4 linked regions of the Homo sapiens genome follow. The protein of the gene in region 2 interacts with the protein of the main gene of each other region in a biochemical or structural test. Each region holds a gene or a part of one and is shown on either strand. Other genes may lie near its edges.

The links. The genes of interacting proteins can lie anywhere in the genome.
Region 1: of the proteins of RFFL (region 2) and OTUB2, one has a biochemical effect on the other in vitro, tested with the Homo sapiens proteins (one large-scale study listed by BioGRID).
Region 3: of the proteins of RFFL (region 2) and ESPL1, one has a biochemical effect on the other in vitro, tested with the Homo sapiens proteins (one large-scale study listed by BioGRID).
Region 4: of the proteins of RFFL (region 2) and STAM, one has a biochemical effect on the other in vitro, tested with the Homo sapiens proteins (one large-scale study listed by BioGRID).

Annotation. Positions count from the first base shown.
Region 1 is NC_000014.9:94,025,143-94,029,139, reverse strand, and holds the start of OTUB2 (ubiquitin thioesterase OTUB2), read right to left. Parts: upstream 2,801-3,997; 5' UTR 2,603-2,800; coding exon 2,600-2,602; intron 1-2,599. UniProt on the Homo sapiens protein: Hydrolase that can remove conjugated ubiquitin from proteins in vitro and may therefore play an important regulatory role at the level of protein turnover by preventing degradation.
Region 2 is NC_000017.11:35,053,708-35,057,207, forward strand, and holds part of RFFL (E3 ubiquitin-protein ligase rififylin), read right to left. Parts: intron 788-3,500; exon of another isoform or gene 681-787; intron 1-680.
Region 3 is NC_000012.12:53,278,299-53,281,798, forward strand, and holds part of ESPL1 (separin), read left to right. Parts: intron 1-1,433; coding exon 1,434-1,568; intron 1,569-3,208; coding exon 3,209-3,328; intron 3,329-3,500. UniProt on the Homo sapiens protein: Caspase-like protease, which plays a central role in the chromosome segregation by cleaving the SCC1/RAD21 subunit of the cohesin complex at the onset of anaphase. During most of the cell cycle, it is inactivated by different mechanisms.
Region 4 is NC_000010.11:17,685,651-17,689,150, reverse strand, and holds part of STAM (signal transducing adapter molecule 1), read right to left. Parts: intron 1,125-3,500; coding exon 978-1,124; intron 1-977. UniProt on the Homo sapiens protein: Involved in intracellular signal transduction mediated by cytokines and growth factors. Upon IL-2 and GM-CSL stimulation, it plays a role in signaling leading to DNA synthesis and MYC induction. May also play a role in T-cell development.

The sequences.
Region 1 (3,997 bases), on a different chromosome or scaffold from region 2:
GGTTTCCCCCTCATTGGTGGAATAAAACCCAAACCCCACAGCACAGCAAGTGAGGCCCTGCACAGAACATCCTGACCCCACCAAATTTTCTAGACTCAATTTCCCTGCCTCCCTCAATCTCCTTGCATCTTCAGAGGCTGTTCACCTTTGCCAAAATCCCCTATTCTTGACCATGCTTCAAGGCCTGATAGCCCACTGTCCCCCCGCACCCGCCAAAAGGAATGTGCCCTTCCCAAATCCTTCTTGAACACTCATATACATCCTTCAACTCAGCTCAAAAGACCTCCTCTGCAGAACCTTCCAACACCCCCACTCCCTCAGAGCATATTGACCTCTCACTGTGTTCCCAATGTCCTTAGGCCTCTTAGGCATGACCTGTAGCTCAGACACTGCTTGTGTCCAGCTGTCTTGGCCAGCAGGCAGTGAGCTCCTACAGCGGGCAGGCACCTTGTCTTTCTCATCAGTGTCACAGTGCCCAGCACAGGCCTGACAAAGGTGCCCACTGGGGGCCTGTTTGACAAATAACAGAACAAAGCACAATAGGACCCTGCGGTTTTCCTGCTTATGTCTGACTCATTCATTCGTCAAACATGAAATGCACCTTGAGTGCACGAGAACCCTAGCTATTTGCAGTCCCTGCCAGAGGTCTGGTCCTTGTCTCACCCCTACCTTCCCAAGTGTCTTTGTGTCTTCCACGGGGCGCCCTTCCTCAAGCTTAGCCCAGTGATGTAGAAACAGGAAAGTAAAGAAGATGCTGTATTTTCCAAGGATATTCCTTCTGTCACCACCATCCACACAATGCAAGTTCAACATAAAAACCCACCATGCAGCACAGGGCCCAGTATGGTCCCCGCATGCAGTAGGTGCTCAATAAATGCCATGTGCAGGGAAGGGAAAAGACCCTGCATGGCCTCCACCCCTGTGATTACCAGACAGACGTCATATTTTAGTGGGTTAACCACTTCATCCTTCGCCAAGGCACCCAAGCCCCCGGTGAGGGGTGAGGGCTTTGGACCCCATCTGCCATCTAACTTCCAGTCTCCTGAGTCAGGGCAGATAGGGAGCAGAGTGAGCGGCCTCACTGCATGGCACAAAGAGCAGCTACCGCCTCTGCTGTGCTCTCAGCTGCCGAGTGGTGGCCAGAGGGCATGCCAGCCTCCAGCTCCCGGGTGGCTAAGCCCATCATTACCCCAGCTCCACCACTCCCTGGTGGGTGATGCAGAAACACCTGGGCTGCCTTCCAGGAGCAGCTCAACCAGGTAAACCCTTGGGCACCAAGTGGAAGCAGGAAGCTGGTGCTTCCAGATGCTCCAGAGGCCCCCAGCTATGCCCCAGGCAGCAGGCTGGCTTGGCAAGGACAGTCCCAGCTCGAGTGCCCTGGCTGCCTATGCCACACCCAGATCGTGCCAGGCCATGACCAGGCTTTGACCCATGCCCCAGCCCGGCAGCATGCTGCCGTGGTGACCCATTTTCCTGCCCAGTCATAGGAGAGAGGAGGCTAAGCTTGAAGAACCAGGCATCTGTGCACACCCATTTCCAGGACTCTGTTGTCACAGGAAAAGCTCCAGCTAATCATATCACATGGTTCCCATGACACAGATGTGCAAAACGGTGCTGAGGGGGAGAGCGGACCAACCAAAGCCTCTTCGCTTTCCAACAGGTGGAAGTGAGACTTGAACCTGGGGCTGTGTGGCCCCGACTCAAGCCACCCAGCCCTCACTCCACAGGCTCCCCCTGCTCAGGGTTGAAGGGTCTTAGGCAGCCATGCCACCCAGTCCCCTGCAGGATGCCTGACCCCACGGCAACCTGGAAGGTGAGCCGATGTAACACAAAGAGCACTGAACTGAGAGTCCAGAGCCTGGGTTCAAGCCCCAGGTCCACCACAATCAGTACCAGCCCTGCCCTGTCTGGCCTCAGTTTCCCCACCTGCCCAAGCCCAGGGTTAGCCTGGCTCAGAGGGTCTCTGGGCCTCGTTCTGCGCAGACAAGGCTCTCCATCAGGGATTCCTGAGTATTTTCTTTTCCCCGACCCCTAACTCATGCGCCTCACAACTTGAGGCATCCTCTCTAGGTGGGTCCTGACTCCAAAGATGGAGACGGTCTAGTCGCCCACGGAGCAGACGACCTGGTGCCCCGTGCAACCCCTAGATCCTCCCTTGGGGTTGGGGCAGGGGCCAGGAGGTCTTTGACGGCCGAGCCGTCGGGTGGGTGGGGCCGTGGACTGCTGACTGGGGGGCTACTTAACAAAGAGGAGGCGACCCGTAGTGCTGCAGCCTCCCTGTCCCTGCTTCCGTCGAGGGCGCCCACCCAGCGCCGTCGAGGCGGCGCCCCGGGCCACCTGGGGCGGACACGCTGGGGGCGGGGGCTCGGGGCCGAGCTGGACCTCCTCAGCTGCACATCCACGGGGTACAGGGGGGCGCGACTTGGCCCTCAGTATCCGTCCGGACTCCGTATTTCAGGGGGTCGGAAAGCGGCGGGGGCGAGCTGGGGGCTGAGCCTCGCGTCCGACCCCCGTCCCGCGGGTGCACCCGCTCCGGCAGCGACCCCGCCCACCGCGCCCCCTGCCCGCTCCCCCTTCGCGATCCCCCACGATCACTGACCATAGTGACCAGAGCCGCCAGGCCAGGTCCCGCCCCAGCGAGGAGCGATCCGGTGCGGGAATGCCGCGGGAGGCGCGGGCGGGCTCCGCCGCTGGTTCGGTGGCGGGGACCTCGAGGGCGTGGGGGCGGCGGAGAATACACCCGACCGCTCCGCAAACCAAAGGTTAGACCTCCACTGTGTCCCAGCAAGACACACGCCCTGCGATTGACGTCTCAGGCGGGCAATCAGAAGCCGGGACGCGGGACGTCATAGAAAGTGGGTGGGACTTCACGTGCCTTCAGCCTATGCGTTAGGGTCCATTTGATAGGATGCCTCCCCCTTTTAAAGACACAGGAAAGCTTTTAACTAGCAGAGGAGTTAGCTCAACCCAGAAAGACAGGTCCTCGTTTGTAAAGGCTGAAGGGCTTTTGCGCAAACCTAAAATTGGAGTCTTCTGAAGGATTAGCTGGCCGTCATTAATTCATAAACAAGGTCACATAAGTATAGTTTGCACAAGATCAGAGGATAGGCGCTTAGGGAACACGTGTCCAATAACATTAAGTATGGCTTCTATATAATATTTTATCCTCTTCCAACTCATGAATCAGTAGGTTGCCACGCACCCAGTTAATGTTTGTTGAATGAATGAATGTCCAGGATCGTTGACTCTGTGGCTCTGGAATTGTAGGGATATCCGTGAACCAGGTCTAGATGACTCATCTTGCCTACAAGCTCATTATTAATGGACATCAAAATAGGAATATTTATCATTCAAAGATTCATTCACCAGCCCTTGAGTCCTGGAGGAGCTGCTTGGGTGTGGGAGGGAGAGTTTGTAGGGGAGGGGGGCTCAGTGCATTGCATGCATCCACTTCAAAAAATTAATATTTCCAGGAGCGTGTATTGAGCAATTCCCCTTCCTGCTGCTGCCCCCCGCCCCCGCCCCCCGCGCCCCACTCTTACTACGTAAGTCCCAGGTACTGGGCTAGGCTCTGGGCATACAGACATCTGAGTCTTCCAAGCATGTATCATGTCCTGGGCAGGGAGTGTGAGGTCAATGGAGGCTCAAGGAGCAGTAACAATAGCAGGTAATTTTTTACAGTTATTTACACAGTTATGCAGAACACCTACTATGTATCAGGCGCTATCCTGAACTCTCCACATATACAGAATTATCTTACTTAATTTCCTCACAACTGGTTTAAGGGGGTAGGTCCTGTTATTATTATCCCTGTTTCACAGATGAGGAAACATGTACAGAGAGTTTACGTTCCTTGCCTTAGTCACATAGCACTGAAGTGGGATTCAGTCCCAGGCAGTGTGACTCCAGAGCTGGTTTCGAATTCACTCTGCATGTGACTACAGGGGCTGTGTTACCTGCCTCCGCCCCTGACCCCCATTTGTTTTCGGGGGGTTTC
Region 2 (3,500 bases):
TTATGGGAAACAATAATCTTTTTTGTAACTATATTCTCCCCCACAAACCATTCTATCTTATAAATCCATGCTCACCAAGCAAGCTTGATATTATTAAATTTGATTGCCAGATCTCTTGATATTGAAAAGCAATTATCCTAACAAATTCCAGAATCCCGTTAACGGAAAAGGAATCCTTCATTCTAAAATAATAAATTGGCATTCCATTCTGAGCTCAATCACTCAAGTCTGAATACAATCCTGTCTTCAAGACTAATTATTTCCAGGTTCTCCACAAAATACATTTTGTGACCCAAGACTAGACTGACGACACAGTGACCAAAATCCTGAGGGGTCATCCTGAGAAGCTAGATTGGCACCACCCTGGCCAGCCCTACCTAATGCCACCCTCGCTCTACAAGCTAACTTGTATAATACTTTCCCATACTTCTCCACCTTCCACCCCTGTCATACCCTTCAATCAAGCACTATAGTGAAGCACTTTACCTTCCTCTCTAACCGTGTAGAGGTCAAATACACCATCTTATCCATTTTTGCATTTTCCTCCATATCCCAATATAACTTGCATCAAAAGAACCACAATAAATATTTACTGTAAAACACAATTTTGCTTAACAACACAAGCCATTGCATTCCACCATTCCCACAAGCTGAGGCCTCTTTCTGATTTATTTTTCCCACATCAGATGGGTAATGCACTGACTTTGTAGTAACAAGGCTTGATGGAGGCACATCTCATACATGTGCATGAAAATCCAATCATTACACTTATGAACAACAAAATAATCCCCTTTCTAATTTACTGAACTCTTACTCTATCTTTTATCTTCCCCTCCCTCCCCCACCTCTCCATTCCTAAACTGCCAGATTACTATAGAAAAATCAGAAGACTTTATTTAACTGGGTTGCTAACAAATTCATACAGCTGGGGTAAGCCATCACTGGGCTCTAAAAACCTTTCATTCCTCTCTAGCTGATGTCCTGATAGGGCTTTCCAAAGAGCAGTGTCATGCAAGGTTTAGGAGCATGGGGCCTGGGTCAGACAGAACTCATAGTCTTCTTTCTGTGTGACCTGTTAAGGTGATTAATTCCCTAAGCGTCATTTTTCTCATCTGTAAAATGAAGTACCTAAAAGAGGTCATTCACACAAATCCTTAACACTAACACAGTGACAGGCTTAGAGTAGGTGCTTAGTAAACACCGATCCAACAGCTTTTTTTTTTTTTTTGAGATTGAGTCTTGCTTTGTTGCCCAGGCTGGAGTGCAGTGGCGCGATTTTGGCTCACTGCAAGCTCCACCTCCCGGGTTCACGCCATTCTCCTGCCTCAGCCTCCTGAGTAGCTGGGACTACGGGTGCCCACCAGCACGCCTGGCCAATTTTTTTGTATTTTTAGTAGACACGGGGTTTCACCGTGTTAGCCAAGATGGTCTCGATCTCCTGACCTCGTGATCCACTTGCCTCGGCCTCCCAAAGTGCTGGGATTACAGGCGTGAGCCACAGCGCCCGGCCAATGGTCACCAATGATCTTCTGATGGATAAATGTGTGATTCTTTCCTATGTCCTCAACCTTCATGACTCCCTGAAGCCCCATGCACCCAAAACCTACCCAAATTCTTCATTATGAAGCTGTCTTCAGAGGGTTACCAAGAACTATGGACAGAAATATAACTTTAATTAAGCATTAGGCCAGGTGCGATGGCTCACCTGTAATCCCAGCACTTTGGGAGGCCAAGGTGGGCGGATCACCTGAGGTCAGGAGTTTGAGACCAGCCTGGCCAAAACGGTGAAAACCCATCTCTACTAAAAATACAAAATTAGCCAGGTGTGGTGGCACACACCTGTAGTCTAGCTACTCAGGAGGCTGAGGCAGGAGAATCACTTGAACCCAGGAGGCAGAGGTTGCAGTGAGCCGAGATCATGCCATTGCACTCCAGCCTGGGCCACAAGAGCAAAACTCCATCTCAAAAAAAAACAAACAAACAAACAAACAAAAAAAAAACATTAATCAGGCTGGATTTTGACACATTTCCTTGTAACTGAAAGTCACACAGCGCTAGATACTGACCATTTGCATCCCTATTGTTTCTAAAGATAGTATCTCTGACATTAGAAGCATAAGGCTTTTTTTTTAAGAATTGCTTGAGATATTTTTCAGATCCCAAATTCTGGTAAAACAGCTGATGCCAACCAGTTTGAAGACCCTCAGAGAGAAATAAAATCAGCATAATACAGTTTTTTCATCTCCGGGTCCCATTACTTCACCTTTCTCTCTCTGACCACCCAACAATCTCCACATTCCAGCCCACTCCAAAATCCTTAAAAACCCTAGCTCCAAACTCCTCAGGAGGACGGATTTGCAGTTCCCTCTCATCTCCTCATTCTGCAGCCCAACAAATAAACCCCGCCCCCAGGTCTTGGGTATTGACTTGCCACACATCAGACAGCACACTTACTCTGGATACACTTGAATTCCCCTTACAGACTCCTTCTCCCACACTGGCTCCCACTGCAAGCGTGGTAGCCTGACTTACCTTTGACATCAATGACCACTCTTGCTCCCTTATTTTCCTTCCCTGGTTCCTTCTTTTGCCCCCTACATAGGCCCTAGGGTTCTGTACTCCATACTCTTCCTTCTTCCTTTCCTTCTCTAGTGAATTTTACTTCTACTTTTTTTTTTTTTTTTTTTTGAGACAAAGTTTTGCTCTGTTGCCCAGGCTGGAATGCAGTGGCATGATCTCGGCTCACCACAACCTCCGCCTCCTGGGTTCAAATGATTCTCCTGCCTCAGCCTTCTGAGTAGCTGGGATTACAGGCATGCACCACCACGCCCGGCTAATTTTGTATTTTTAGTAGAGACGGGATTTCTCCATGTTGGTCAGGCTGGTCTCAAACTCCTGACCTCAGGTGATCTGCCCACTTCAGCCTCCCAAAGTGCTGGGATTACAGGCGTGAGCCACCATGCCCAGCCTGGTTCTACTTTTTAAATGCATCCTGCAACTATCCCGTTCTATGTCCACTGCCATATCCTGCCCTATCTGCGATGATCCTTCTCAAGAAGGGAGACAAACACTTCCTTACTGGTCCCTTCTTTGTGACTCTCTATTCTCTACAGAGTAGCCAGGGTAACCTTTTATTTAGAAAAAGAATCTTTGCTTGTCACTTTCTGTTTTAAGCCTTCAATGGTGTCCCACCACCCTTTTTTTTTTTCTTTTTCTTTTTTTTTGAGACAGAGTTTTCACTTTTGTTACCCAGGCTGGAGTACAGTGGTGCAACCTCGGCTCACTGCAACATCCACCTCCCGGGTTCCAACAATTCTCCTGCCTCAGCCTCCCGAGTAGCACGGATTACAGGCATAAGCCACCATGCCTGGCTAAAATTTTTTATATTTTTAGTAGAGATGGGGTTTCACCACGTTGACCAGGCTGGTCTCAAACTCCTGACCTCAGGTGATCCACCTGCCTCAGCCTCCCAAAGTGCTAGGATTACAGGTGTGAGCCAC
Region 3 (3,500 bases), on a different chromosome or scaffold from region 2:
ACCCCGTCTCTACAAGAAATAAAAAAAATATAGCCCGGTGCGGTGGCATGTGCCTGTAATCCCAGCTACTCAGGTGGCTGAGGCAGGAGAATCCCTTGAGCCAGGAGGTAGAGGTTGCAGTGAGCCAAGATCGCGCCACTGCACTCCATCCTGGGGGACAGAGCAAGATGCTGTTTCACGCTATTTCATTAAAAAAAAAAAAGTTAGCTTTAATTATTAGATGATTTGTTACCTATCAGAAAAATACATAGATGCCTTTAGACACAATTTTACATTCTTACATTCTTATGTGTGCCTTCTTTTTTTTTTTCAAGATGGAGTCTCACTCTGTCGCCCAGGCTGGAGTGCAGTGGCGCAATCTGGGCTCACTGCAACTTCCGCCATCTGGGTTCAAGTGATTCTCCTGCCTCAGCCTCCTGAGTAGCTGGGACTACAGGCACGCAACCACGCCTGGCTACTTTTTTGTATTTTTAGTATAGACAGGGTTTCACCATATTGGCCAGGCCGGTCTCGATCTCCTCAGGTGATCCACCCGCCTCAGCCTCCCAAAGTGCTGGGATTACAGGCGTGAGCCACCGCACCCAGCTTTCCGCCCCGCCCCCCCGCCGAGATAGAGTCTTGCTCTGTTACCCAGGCTGGAGTGCAGTGGCGTGATCTCAGCTCACTGCAACCTCCACCTCCTGGGTTCAAGCGATTCTCCTGGCTCACTCAGCCTCCTGAGTAGCTGGGACTACAGGCGCATACCACCACACCCTGCTAATTTTGTATTATTGGTAGAGATGGGGTTTCACTATGTTGGCCAGGCTGATCTCGAACTCCTGATCTCAGGTGACCCGTCTGCCTCAGCCTTTCAAAGTGCTGGGGTTACAGGCATGAGCCACTGTGCCTGGCCTATAAGGCCATGTACATTCTTATTTCAGGGAGTTTCACAAAATTCCTGAAGCTCTACCCTAGACTCCACATTAGGAAACAAACAAACAAACAAAAAGCCTTTATACATGCTGTTAACTATGAGCTATTAAACCATATTTCTAGCAGGGGAAGCTACCTCAGCCCTAGATTTGAGACTTGGTTCTGCCACATACCTGTTATATGAACTTAGACAAGCAACTTAACCCATGTGAGTCTTAGCTTCCTGTACTGTAAAATTGGGATTAGACTTGTTATGAAGGTTAAATGCACTGATGCATGTAAGCCTGGGCACAGTGCCTGGCACATAGTAAGAACTCAGAAAATCCTGGCTATTGATGATGAATGGCATCTAGGCTTTAAAACAGTAGGGGTGGGGTGATGATTGCTTCATCTGGGTAACTACATTCCACCCAGGCCCTGAGGTCAAACTACAGTCCAAGGTCCCAAAGGGCTGGGGAGCAGAGGGTAGAAATAGAGGCTTGAGCAGGGGTGGAGTAAACTTGGCTGCTTCTGCTGACCAGCCCATGCAGGCTCTGGAGGTCCTCCTGCTGCTACGGATTGTCTCTGAGAGACTGAAGGACCACTCGAAGGCAGCTGGCTCCTCCTGCCACATCACCCAGCTCCTCCTGACCCTCGGCTGTCCCAGCTATGCCCAGGTGAGTGCCCAACCAGCCTAGTCTGGGGACTGCAGGGGGCCCGTAGCTTTAGAGGCCCACCTCTGAGAAGACAGGATATCAAAGGGGCAGCTTCTCGGCCTTTTACCACCACAACTGGCTGGAGAATTGTGGAGTGTGGAGCAGTTGGAGGCAGCTGTAAGAAGGGGAGTCATCTTTGTCCTTCCTGCAAAACCAGTTGTTCATTAAGTTTACAGACTGCTGCAGGAACCTACCGCCAGTCTTGTATTTCCTAACTGGTTCTGTTGCCCTAGTTGATGCTTCATTGCTCATGTAAAGCTATCACAGTGTCTCCTGGTTGGTCTCCTTGCCTCCAGTTTCTCCCTTTTCTACTTCGTCTTCTTAACGACCACTGGTAGGCACAGGTGTGATGTAATCTCTTTCCTGCTTAACCCTGTTCCCTTTTGCCCCAATAATACTTGCCAGCGCTTACGGCTGCAGTGTTTACCCCTGGATAACTTTGCCACAAAATATCTCACTCTTACTATTTTTGCATCACTCTAGTATATTGACTTTGGAAACAGAAGACATCATTCTGTTTATAGCATTCTGTTTTTAGTGGTGTCATTTCCATTTCCATTTCCATTTCCACTTCCACGTCACCCTCCCGAGTAACTGGGACTACAGGTACATGCCACCACACCTGGCTAATTTTTAAATGTTTTGTAGAGACAGAGTCTCACTATGTTGCCCAGGCTGGTCTTGAACTCCTGGGCTCAAGTGATCTCCCACCTCAGCCTCCCAAAGTACTGATAATACAGGCATGAGCCACCGTGCCCAGCTACTGCTTACTCTGTATATAGCTTTAATCTAAAAGTGGTTAACCAGGCTGAGCGCAGTGGCTCACACGTGTAATCCCAGCATTTTGGGAGGCTGAGGTGGGCAGATCACCTGAGGTCAGGAGTTGGAGACCAGCCTGACCAACATGGAGAAACCCCGTCTCTACTAAAAATACAAAATTAGCCAGGTATGGTGGCGCATGCCCGTAATCCCAGCTACCTGGGAGGCTGAGACAGGAGAGCACTTGATCCCGGGAGGCGGAGGTTGCGGTGAGCTGAGATCACACCATTGCACTCCAGCCTGGGCAACAAGAGCGAAACTCCGTCCTAAAAAAAAAAAAGTGGTTAACCAAGTGTTAAATGGACATTTTAGAGAGTGAATCAATAACTCCTATGCAGATTATAATATCTGAAATAATGTAATATTTATTGGACATGTTGAACATTTTGCTTGTAAATACTTTACTCCACTTTTTTTTTTTTTTTTTTTTTGAGACGGAGTCTCACTCTGTTGCCCAGGCTGGAGTGCAGTGGCGCGATCTCCATTCACTGCAACCTCTGCCTCTCGGGTTCAAGTGATTCTCATGCCTCAGCCTCCCGAGTAGCTGGGATTACAGGCGCGTGCCACCACACCTGGCTAATTTTTGTATTTTTAGTAGAGATGGGGGTGTCACCATGTTGGCCAGGCTGGTCTTGAACTCCTGACCTCAGGTGATCCGCCCACCTTGGCCTCCCAAAGTGCTGGGATTACAGGTGTGAGCCACATGGCCACCCTTATTTACTCCAGTTTTGTTTGAAGAGCCTGGCTGCCTTTCCTCATGTGCCCTCTGATTGCTTCCTTAGTTACACCTGGAAGAGGCAGCATCGAGCCTGAAGCATCTCGATCAGACTACTGACACATACCTGCTCCTTTCCCTGACCTGTGATCTGCTTCGAAGTCAACTCTACTGGACTCACCAGAAGGTATTTCTCACTTTCTTAAACTCCGAAGGCCCTGGGTATTAGAAAGAATTTAGGATTTTCTTGATATTTGCCTGGCTTTTGAGATTTCCCTGGAGCTAGGCAGTATGTTCCTGACCCTGAGAGGCAGGCATATTTCCTAGCCTTGCCCTCGCCAGCGATTTGCTCACCAGTC
Region 4 (3,500 bases), on a different chromosome or scaffold from region 2:
TAAAAAAGACATTTCTTGATTTTTTTCTACATGACATAAATTAGAGACTGAATTTTTTTGGCACAAGGGTGGACAGGAGAGCAAAGTTAAGCTATTTAGCCATATCCACTGGGGAAAGGAAGACTTATGTACTGGTCGGCTCTTACTAAGGAGAAAATGCTTCAGGTGCTTCTCTTCCCATTTACCCCTTCTAAAGTCCTCTCATTGTTAATAGAGGAATTCATAAATTTCCTCCACAAAAGAATCTCTCAAGTCATCCCTAACTTTTAAGGATATCCTGATTTCTGAGCTATCATTCTTTGTAGAAAATTATAGCATTAAGAGCATTTAAAAAGACAGTGTTACCTAATTAATAAAGCTATTTTGTGTATATTATTAAAACTGTACTGGCTGGGCCTGGTGGCTCACACCTGTAATCCTAGCACTTTGGGAGGCCGAGGCGGGCAGAACACCTGAGGTCAGGAGTTCGAAACCAGCCTGGCCAACATGGTGAAACCCACCTCTATTTAAAAAAAAAAAAAATTTCCAGGTCTGGCTGCACGTGCATGTAGTCCCAGCTACTCAGGAGGCTGCGGCAGGAGAATCACCTGAACCCAGGAGGCAGAGGTGGCAGTGAGCCGAGATCACGCTACTGCACTCTACCCAGGGCGACAAACAAAGACTCCGTCTCAAAAACAAACAAACAAAAACTATACCAAAAAATTTCAAAAACTGCAAAATGTTAAACCAATTCGTTTATAAAGAAGTAGAGAGGTTAGAGCACATTAATATTCCATTATAATACTTTTCTGGCACCTCTGAATGCCAGAAAACTAGTATTACTAACTAGCAATACAACTAGTTACTAACACAATTAGCTAACGAAAATTCCTCTGAAGTAGTAAAAATTACCTGGGAATGAAGAAAAAAATTCAAATAAATATAGCTATTTAAGAGAAACAAACTGTAGCACACACACAACTTCATTCCCAAAATACCTGAGAGCCAATAGCTGGGAACGTAACTCCTTGTTCCTTAAGGTTCTTAATCATTGCTGATATTAGACTAAGCTGTGGATCATTCTTAAATTCATCTGTCCATTCAACCATAAGAGCCTTTAATTTTTCACATACTTTAGGATGACCCTGTAAAATAGAAAAAGAAATAAAAGAGCACCAATTTCCTAGCCAATGATTTAATACAGACATTTTAAATAGTAAAGTTATTAAGTGATGTTTTTTGAATCACAAGTTATGCATAGCTATAGACAAGAAAATATAGTTATTCGAAATAAAACTAATGTTCACACTATGAAAAAACCCATCATATATATCTCACTTCAAATTAAAGCATTAAATAGGTAATAAGATTTTGGAGATCTGAAAGGACTTTTCAGAATATTTTGCAACGAAGCAAGGTTTGTACATCAGTAAGACAAGGAAAAGTGTCTGCTTTTTGCAAAGCAATAAAAAAGTGGGAAGGAGAGAATAAATGATACAGTTCCTTTATTCCAAATTCCTGACTTCTTAATGTTCATGACTATGCATTTTTTCCATGATGCTTAATTATCTGGGGCCTAGTTTGAGGTACACTGCATGTTAATCATTTTGAAAATTTAATTTCTTCAAAATAACATAACTTTTTTTCCTTTCTTTTCTTTTCTTTTTTTTTGGTTTGTTTTTTGAGACAGAGTCTCACCCTGTGGCAGAAGCCGGACTGCAGTGGCTCGATCTCAGCACACTGCAACCTCCGCCTCCCAGAGGGGGGTGGGGGATGCGGTTCAAGCGATTCTCTTGTGTCAACCTCCCGAGTAGGATTACAGGCGCGCACCACCATGCCCAGCTAATTTTTGTACTTTTAGCAGACGCGGGGTTTTACCATGTTGGCCAGGCTGGTCTTGAACTCCTGACCCCAACTGATTCGCCCGCCTCAGCCTCCCAAAGTGCTGCGATTACAGGCATGAGCCACCGTGCCCAGCCCAAAATAACATAACTCTTTATGGTTGATGTATAACAAAGATTCAAGTTAGTCTAAGGCAGGTGTGCAGGGCATTATTCTTCCGTATTAAAGAAAGAGATAAATGTAGTGAGTTTTCAAAATAAATTATTTTACTCATTGCTTATTAAGGGAAAAAACCTGGCCAGTTCATTAAAATACTGATGTATCTTCATAGCGGCAATAATTTGAAGTCTTACTATTTGATGTAATAGATATAAAGAAACCTTCACAGATACCAGAGAAGAAATAACTCCTCTATGAAATGTCATGAATGTATTTCAAACCAATGCTTACTAAATAATTGGCTAAAGCTTTTAAAAATGGAGAAGGTTAGACTTTTAGATTACTCTATTAGAAGAAAAAAAATTCTTTCTAAGTGCACATGTAATCTGTATTTTGGTCAAGGAGCATATAATGGATTTGCAAACGCTTTATTGAGACTATACATGAACTTAATTTGTTTAATAAAAGGAAATTTTTTAAAAGGGCAGGATGTTGGCTGGGCGCGGTGGCTCATGCCTGTAATCCCAGCACTTTGGAAGGCCGAGGTGGGCAATCACAAGGTCAGGAGTTCGAGACTGGCCTGACCATCCCCATGGTGAAACCCCATCTCTGCTAACACTACAAAAACCAGCCAGGCGTGGTGGCGCATGCCTGTATTCCCAGCTACTCAGGAGGCTGAGGCAGGAGAATCACTTGAACCCGGGAGGCAGAGGCTATAGTCAGCTGAGATCACGCCACTGTACTCCAGCCTGGGTGACAAAGAGAGACACTGTCTCAAAAAAAAAAAAAAAAGGCGGGATGTTATTAAGTACAAAACCAATATGTTCACTGTAAAACATTCAGAAAATAAAGAGAAGTCCTCTTGCCTATAGGAAGTCGTTTTTGGAAATGGCTGCTTGCACTATTATACATAGGTAAGTATACCACATTTTTCACCTACATTACAAAAAACATGGTATTAGAATCTCTTCATAAACAGTTGTAATCTCGATGGACATTCAGGACATTAAAAGACAATGTTTATTAATTAGTAGAAAATAAATATTAACTGCATAAAGCAGGAAAGGGAAAGAATTATCATTTAACCATGATGTTCGAAAAGTACAGAATTTTACATTCTTACTATATTTCTATACTGCTATTTTTCTACTGTAACCTGGAACTATTCATTTTTCCCAAAAACATGAGGCATTTTCCCTTTTAACATACAAAAACTTTTTCTTGATTTACAGTACTCCCCCTAAAAAGGCCAAAAATAATTACTTTTAGAATGCACAAATTTTTACTGGGGAAACTCACATATTACTAATTGAAAATTGAAAAATTTCTTGAACTGTGTGACTAGAATTCTACAGTTGAGTGGGCAGTTGTAGGGTCCCCAGTTCTCCCTGCTTTCTTTCTGTGTCCCAATAGAAAAACAGAGTGCCTTGTCCCGCTCTGTGACCTAGCCAGCTGCATGTTTTCCACCATAGGTTTGGACCCAAACTGGGGCCTTGAACATTCTCAGGCACTGATAAAGT